Linked DNA regions of Homo sapiens. The protein of the gene in region 1 purifies or fractionates together with the protein of each later gene. This does not show direct contact. Each region holds a gene or a part of one and is shown on either strand. Other genes may lie near its edges. The genes, in order: PLCL2 and SLC35F5.

Region 1 (3,829 bases):
CCCTTTTCCTGACCCTCTTTGGATGGTTCATATTTGTGAATAATTTCAAGGCTTATTTCCTCATTTATATGTGCCACACCCTGTTCTGCCTCAAGAAACATCATAAGGTCCTTGGTATCAAGGAATTCTTTATTGCTTGAAAACTGAACTAAAAGGAAATAAATTTCAGGTCTAGTACAAAGCTCATGAAAAACCTCAATAAATTCTTCCTTTGTGACCTCGGTACCAGCTTTGTCCTTTGATTTATGCAATTCTTTGAACTTAAGCTCAATTTTGCTCGTTTTTAAACCAGGATTGAGGTTTCTGATACATTGCACAGCATTACACAGAGTTATATGTCCAAGGTTATCTACATCAATTTCACTAAACATTTGTGAAACCCAAGAAGTCCTCATGTTATCTTGGCTACTTTCTAACATATCAAGTGTATGTTTTCCATAAGAAATTAGGTACCGCAGTCCTGTAACCCAGATGTTTGCAACATCTGCGGAGTTGGCAACCAAATCCAGTGACTCATAATTCTCTCCATATATGACGGAAAACGCACAATCTTCAGATATCTGGTCAGAAATGCCATTGCTGCGGAATATGTCTGTGTTTTTTCCTGTTCTCACTTCCTTGATGGATTTAATGTCAATCTTGGCTTTCTCAGAATCCTTCTTAGATGGCTCCCACCTTAGGCTCTGCATGTCAGCATCCAGTAAAAAGTACCTATGATAAATTCTAGAGTTGGAGCGAACCTTTTTGAGTTCTGAACCCTCAACCATTGAATTAATACAATCACTTGCACTGCTGATCTTCTTCTCTGTTGGCATGCTGCTGAATGAGACTGTCTTTTTCCGTTCCCTCTTCTGTTTTGTACCATCCTGAGAGGAAAAAAAGACCGTATATTAGAATAACATAAATATAGGTTTCTATGTTCAAGATTATGAATAGAAATTTAATTTCCTAGAAAAAAATCATACTATTAAGATTTCCTATTCTAGATTCCTGTGATGAATGATACTCATTCATCTCTAAAGCTCAGAATTGGCCTTGCAGTTGACAGCCTAATACCAACAGGTATGAAATCATTATTGAATAATTGCAATTCATATTTATCAAGAAGAACAATTTCAGGCCAGGGACGGAGGTTCACACCTATAAACTCAGCACTTTGGGAGGCTAAGGCAGGAGGATTGCTTGAGGTGAGGAGTTTGAGACCAACCTGGGTAATACAGTGAGATCCCATCTCTACAAAAAAAAATTTTTTTTGGCCGGGCATGGTGGCTCATGCCTGTAATCCCAGCACTTTGGGAGGCCAAGAAGGGGCAGATCACCCAAGGTCAGAAGTTTGAGACCAGCCTGGCCAACGTGCTGAAACCCTGTCTCTACTAAAAATACAAAAATTAGCCGGGCATGGTGGCGGGTGCCTGTAATCCCACCTACTCGGGAGGCTGAGGCAGGAGAATCGTTTGAATCCGTGAGGCAAAGGTTGCAGTGAGCTGAGATTGTGTCACTGCACTCCAGCCTGGGCAACAGAGTGAGAATCCGTCTCAAAAAAAAAAAAAATTAATTAGCCAGATATGGTGGCTCATGCCTGTAGTCCTAGCTATTCAGGGGGCTGAGATGGGAAGATTGCTTGAGCCCAGGAGATTGAGGCTGCAATGAGCTATGATCTTGCCACAGCACTCCAATGTGGACAACAGAACAAGATCCTGTCTCAAAAAATAGAAAGAAAGAAACAATTTTCAGAGCCCAGAGAAAAGTGAAAATGCAGGATTCCCTGATTAAAAATTATTAAGAATTTCAAGGTGACAGAGGAGCTAAGTGAAGCCCAGGGCTCTTCTGAGTCAGTGTGAAGCCTGTGCAACTGTACAGGTCATACACCATGAAACAGGCCCTGTTTCTACGTACGCCTCCTACACCAATACTTCTCAAAGGCTTGTCACCAGACCACCTGCCTCAGAATCATCTGGGTTACCTGGTTACAATGCAGATTGCTAGGCCCATGGAACCAGCTCCCTGGGGCTGGTGCCCAGGAATTTACATCAAGGTAGCACTCCATGTGACGGAGGATGTACACTAAAGTTTAAAAACCATTTCCTGACTACTTGGGCTAAGACGTCTAGACTATTTCTGGAAACTATTTGCACCAAATGATGAGAAACAGCTAAGTAGAAACCAATTAAGTAACTGTTAAATGGGAATTCCAGCAGAAATTCCTCTCTCCAAAGTCTCATACTAGATCAGTCATCAGTATACATCAGATAGACATGTAAGTCTGAGATGAAGGGCTAGATTATAGCTGTTGGAGCTCCTAAAATCGTAGAGTTGGATTTATTAAAACCTATTACTATGCCCCAATGCTCAGAACAATGTCACCTTGTACCTTAATATTAATAGATTATTAAAAGGACTAAGTTTAAAACTTCAGGCAGCACTTATTTCTAAAGAAGTTAGCATCACCAGTAAGGCACTGTTCAACTTTCCTGCTTAAGGTAACATGTTCTCATCTTAAGGGGCTGACATCCACATCTGTGTGTGTATTTAAGTCCTTCCTTGTATGGAGACCTTTATTATTTGAAAAGAGTGCTCAAATTACCTCAAAAGATCTTTCACAATTTTAAACCTAAAAGATGATACTGCCTTTCAGTATGTGTATAAAATCTATGACAAATTTTCAGTATTCATTGTATTTATAAATAAGAAATAGGGATGGGAGTTGGAATTATATCACTTTCATGACAAAGAAAAGAACATTGTTGAATATTATCCAAAGGCAATTCTAATTTTCCTGCTCTGGATAGAAAATATCTGTATTTTAAAAAGCTATTATGCTATACTCTATCTCTGAAATTTAAAACCACTTTTACTTTCTAACTACCTATACTTCCAAAAGCAATTTGCAGAAGGTAATTAAACTTAAACTTTAAATCATATGGGTATCATTTTCCTCAAAGTTTCAAAATGAACCATAGAAGCTTTTGTGATCTGGGTGCCAAGACAAAACATAAAAGCCACAAGGTAGAATATTTCTTTACAATTATATCCTCAGAACAATAAAGTGCAAAATACATAAAAACTGTGGTAATTGTATCTGTAAGATACATTATATTAAAGCCATTTCAAATCCCTAAAGCATAGATTGTATTACATCAATTTGAGTGAGTTAGCATGAAATTAGTTTTGTAATCAGCCATGCATAAGGACATGAAACAAATGTATAATTTTCTATTTTTCAGAATGACGTCTTTAGTTTTTTTTTCCCAGTAGAGACGGGGTTTCACCATGTTAGCCAGGATGGTCTCGATCTCCTGACCTCGTGATCCGTCTGCGTCAGCCTCCCAAAGTGCTAGGATTACAGGTGTGAGCCACCACGCCTGACCGATGTCTTTAGTTTTTAAAAGACGCATTTACCTTTGATAAAGACAACATACTGACTCAGTTAGGGAATTTTATAATCTTTATATATCGTGTCTCAAAGATGACACTAGTAGAACAATTACAAAAATATATGGATGTGGTTTATCCACTGATCCATTAAGAAATATATAGTATTTTCCCAACATTGTAATCTTTTATTCTTTCATTTTTACAGGCTGATTAATATTCTGTTACACTTTCTAATTTGTTATAAATGATACATTTCAGATAAACAGGTTTCTTTTTTATTAAGAGGGAAAAGGCCTAATAGCAAAGTAAGTTAATAACATACACACATGCTCACATACCCATGTATGTGGAACAGGCAGCAGCTTAAACACCACACTGTGGCTTTAAGAACATTGCCATGCTTTTCACAAACCAGCCCAGGCTTTGAATGGAGACTTCTGGTTATCAATTGCAG
Region 2 (3,829 bases), on another chromosome or scaffold:
TTCTATATTTAAGTTTGTTATGGCAAAACAGTAAACCTTTTGGTATTACCTGTGAATCATATTTTTTTTAAAAAAATGTAGTTACTAGGCAGGCAAATCACTTGTGGTTGGGAATTCAAGGCCAGCCTGGCCAACACGGTGAAACCTGCCTCTACTGAAAATACAAAAATTAGCTGGGCATGGTGGTGCATGCCTGTAATCCCAGCTACTCAGGAGGCTGAGGCAGGAGAATCACTTGAACCCAGGAGGCAGAGGTTGCAGTGAGCTGAGATCGTGCCATTGCACTCCAGGCTGGGCTACAGAGCAAGACTCTGTCAAGAAAGAGAAAAAAAGAAGAAAGAGAAGAAAGAAAGAGGGAAAGAAAAGGAAAGAAAAAGAGAGAGAAAGAAAAAGAAAGAAAGAAAGAAAGAAAGAAAGAAAGAAAGAAAGAAAGAAAGAAAGAAAGAAAGAAAAAGAAAGGAAGAAAGGAAGGAAGGAAGAAAGAAAGAAAGAAAGGAGAAAGAATCTTATTACCCAAAAGATCTAAACCAATTATTTTATTTTCATCTGCCGTAACATATAAGTTATCATCTTTCAATAATTCCTCACAAAATCTCTAAAAGCTAGGCCAGCATGATGCAATTCTCAGTTATCTAGCAAACACTATTTTTAAAAATGTGTATTGGGACTAAACTTACCTCTGAATTCGATGTTTTCTGCATATAAAAGCAAATATTCTTCTGATTCCCACCATCACAGGATCCCAATTATTATAATGGCATAGGAGAGTTACAATAAAAAATGAAAAAAATACAGGGATAGCTCCTGCAAAAAATAACCAAGAAAACTGCACCTAAAAATAAAAGATAGAGGAAAAAACACACCCACAATTATCATTAAGGCAATTTTCCCCTTCAATGTAAGTTTTCTATTTGTGAAAACTAGCAGGAATAAGAACAATGGGAAGACAAAATTAAACACTGACAATGTATTAAGTGTATTATTATTAAATAAGAATTCAAGACTTCAACTTACTATTCCATGCACCTAAATTACCAACAACAATAGTTCTTGCTTGGAAAATAGGCTAAAGGAAAGCCAAGAAAGCATACTTTCCATTTATAGGCATTGTACACTTAGAGTAGAGATATACAGTAGGAAACTTTGCTCCTGCACACCATGTTGCTCATTTCTTCTTCACTGTTTGCTGCCTAGTCTCAAGTGGGTCTCTCTCCCTCAGTTTCTGAAGTCATCTTCAAAAAATGTATATTTTCGTAAAAAGTTACAGTTGTAGTATGCTGTGTATGCTACAGTCCTTATGACAGTACCAAAAACAAATTAAGTGCAAATTTGACACTCAAAACTCGCTTATCTAGTAATAAATGAAAAAAGCTCAAAATGAAATAATGACCAAATAAAATAAAGAAAAAAATATAGAAATATTTTTACTAAGGAATGTTAGCCAGAGAAGACAAGCAACAAGACAAGCCTCATCAGTGATGTCAACAAGTCTGATCCTCCAATCCATCATTTATCAGAGTTGTCAAGAAAATAAAAAATATCTGTAAGTAGGGTGGAGGTATTAAAATCAAAAAGAAAAAAAAATAAGAAAAACAAATATATAAATAAAAAGAAAATAAAAAATAATGAGATGCCATCCAAAACAAAACTCATTCTTCCCTTTCACTAGTTCACTTTTACCATCTAGACTCAGCTAAAGATCAGAAACGATTGTCAAAGAAGCCTACACTGATCAACCACTGAGACTTAAGTGTAACACACAGGAGGTTTGCTTTAAAAATAATGATGAAAATAGTAACTTCTATCTATAAAATAGGAAAGGAAAACTGTGTTTGCCCTCTTTGAGAATTAAAAAAAAAAAAAAAAGGGCATGGAATCATAGGTAAGACTCCCTCTGGTGGAAAACATATACTATTCCATTTCATAGCACCATTAGTCAGAGTAAACGAGTTTTGTGAGCATAATGTCTTTTATGAGGGAACTCACAATGCATAACACAAGAATAATAACTGACAATTTTTAACATGCATGCCCTATTTCTATGGTATTCATATACAATGACTGAGTCAGCCTAAGAAGACCCCGGAAAGAATAGTCATTAAACTGAAAAGCCTTCATTTAGTTATGAAATTACCAATATATTTTAACATATTCCTGGAATATTTGCCAGAATGACTAATAATCAGGAAAAACCATGCTGCATTTAAATTATCCAAGATCAGAAAAGGTATTAAGAAGTTATAAATAATGCGATTAAAAATGTAGATATAGTTGATAGAATTATTTCATGAATATTCAACTAAAAACCTTATTTCATAACTGAATCAAAGCAAACTTAATAAAGATAGATAAAGCCCTAGAAGACTTTAGAAGGCAAGTTCACTTTCCACAATGTAGCTGTTTATATGTTGTCTCATAATAAAAAACTTCTAATTTGATTTCCAACAAGCTAAGACAAAAGAAACGAAGCCATTTATTACAACAAAGAAAATTACCTATGTAAACAAAATTTTTTTTTCTAATTCCTAAATATATCTGAATATCAAATAGAATATGATCAAGGATGCTTTCTATTATATAAAATGATTATAAATAGATTTAAATAACCAATTTGTTTCAAGCACAATGTTAATAAATGCTAACATTTCAGAAGCTATATATAAATACAGTTAGCTAATTAAACCTAAAAACCCTATAAAAGTAGATTTCTCTTATGTTTGTGTTACAGTTCTGGACACACACTGCTGCTTTTTCCAGATGGAATCTCCCTAACCTCAATCCTGACACCAACACACAGCCTGCTCCTTTAACTGACTGCCCAGTTCTAGATATGAAGACAATCAAGAACACCAAATCTTTTCTTGATTGTCTTCATATCCAGAACTGGGCAATCAGTTAAAGTTTGGTTATGTTTTTATAATTAATTGCATGTGCATACATTTCCCCGTTTTGTCTTTACCCTAAAATACTTTATTAAACAAATTATAACCATTATTGTTTGTAATGATAATTATGAAATGACTAATCATTTAATACAATTAGGTCCCCTGTGACTATTTTCTTAAAAATTCCTGAACATTAAGCTGCAATTTTTTTCAATCTACGAAAGCTTTTGTTTTTAAAATATCAGTACAATAAAGATGATTTACACAGTAGTCTACCAAAATCCTCTAACAAGTAGCACCTTCCCAGTTTCACAACCAGTTTGGTTCATATTCAGGATTATGACCTGAAGATGAAGAAGGGCCTAGATATTACTTAAATCTATAAAAGAATGATGTGTAATAATGTGCAATGTTAGTGTTATATGGAATATCCACATTCTTTGAAAATGCAAGTTATGTAAGATAATTAATTCTCAATTAAGGAAAGAATCTCAGTTCTTTAACCATGACAAATAAGAATTTACTGACCATAAAACAAAGTTAAATATCAGTAAAGAATTATTTTATAAATAAAGAGGATATAGAGCACTAAGCATATTTTGCTTTTATCTTTTTTTTTTTTTTTTTTTTTGAGATGGAGTCTTGTTCTGTTGCCCAGGCTGGAGCGCAGTGGCATGATCTTGGCTCACTGCAACCTCCGCCTCCCGGGTTCAAGTGATTCTCCTGCCTCAGCCTCCCAAGTAGCTGGGATTACAGGTGCACGCCATCACACCCAGCTAATTTTTGTATTTTTAGTAGAGACGGGGTTTCACCATGCTGGCCAGGCTGGTCTCGAACTCCTAACCTCAAGTGATCTGCCTGCCTCGGCCTCCCAAGTGCTGGGATTACAGGCGTGAGCCACTGTGCCTGGCTAAGACCTAGAGAAAAATAGGTTTAAAATTTTG

What was found.
Region 2: the proteins of PLCL2 (region 1) and SLC35F5 purify together in Homo sapiens (affinity purification with mass spectrometry, with the first as the bait; one large-scale study listed by BioGRID). This does not show direct contact.

The regions. Positions count from the first base shown.
Region 1 is NC_000003.12:17,006,711-17,010,539, reverse strand, and holds part of PLCL2 (inactive phospholipase C-like protein 2), read right to left. Parts: intron 867-3,829; coding exon 1-866. UniProt on the Homo sapiens protein: May play an role in the regulation of Ins(1,4,5)P3 around the endoplasmic reticulum.
Region 2 is NC_000002.12:113,718,477-113,722,305, forward strand, and holds part of SLC35F5 (solute carrier family 35 member F5), read right to left. Parts: intron 2,893-3,829; exon of another isoform or gene 2,814-2,892; intron 833-2,813; coding exon 678-832; intron 1-677.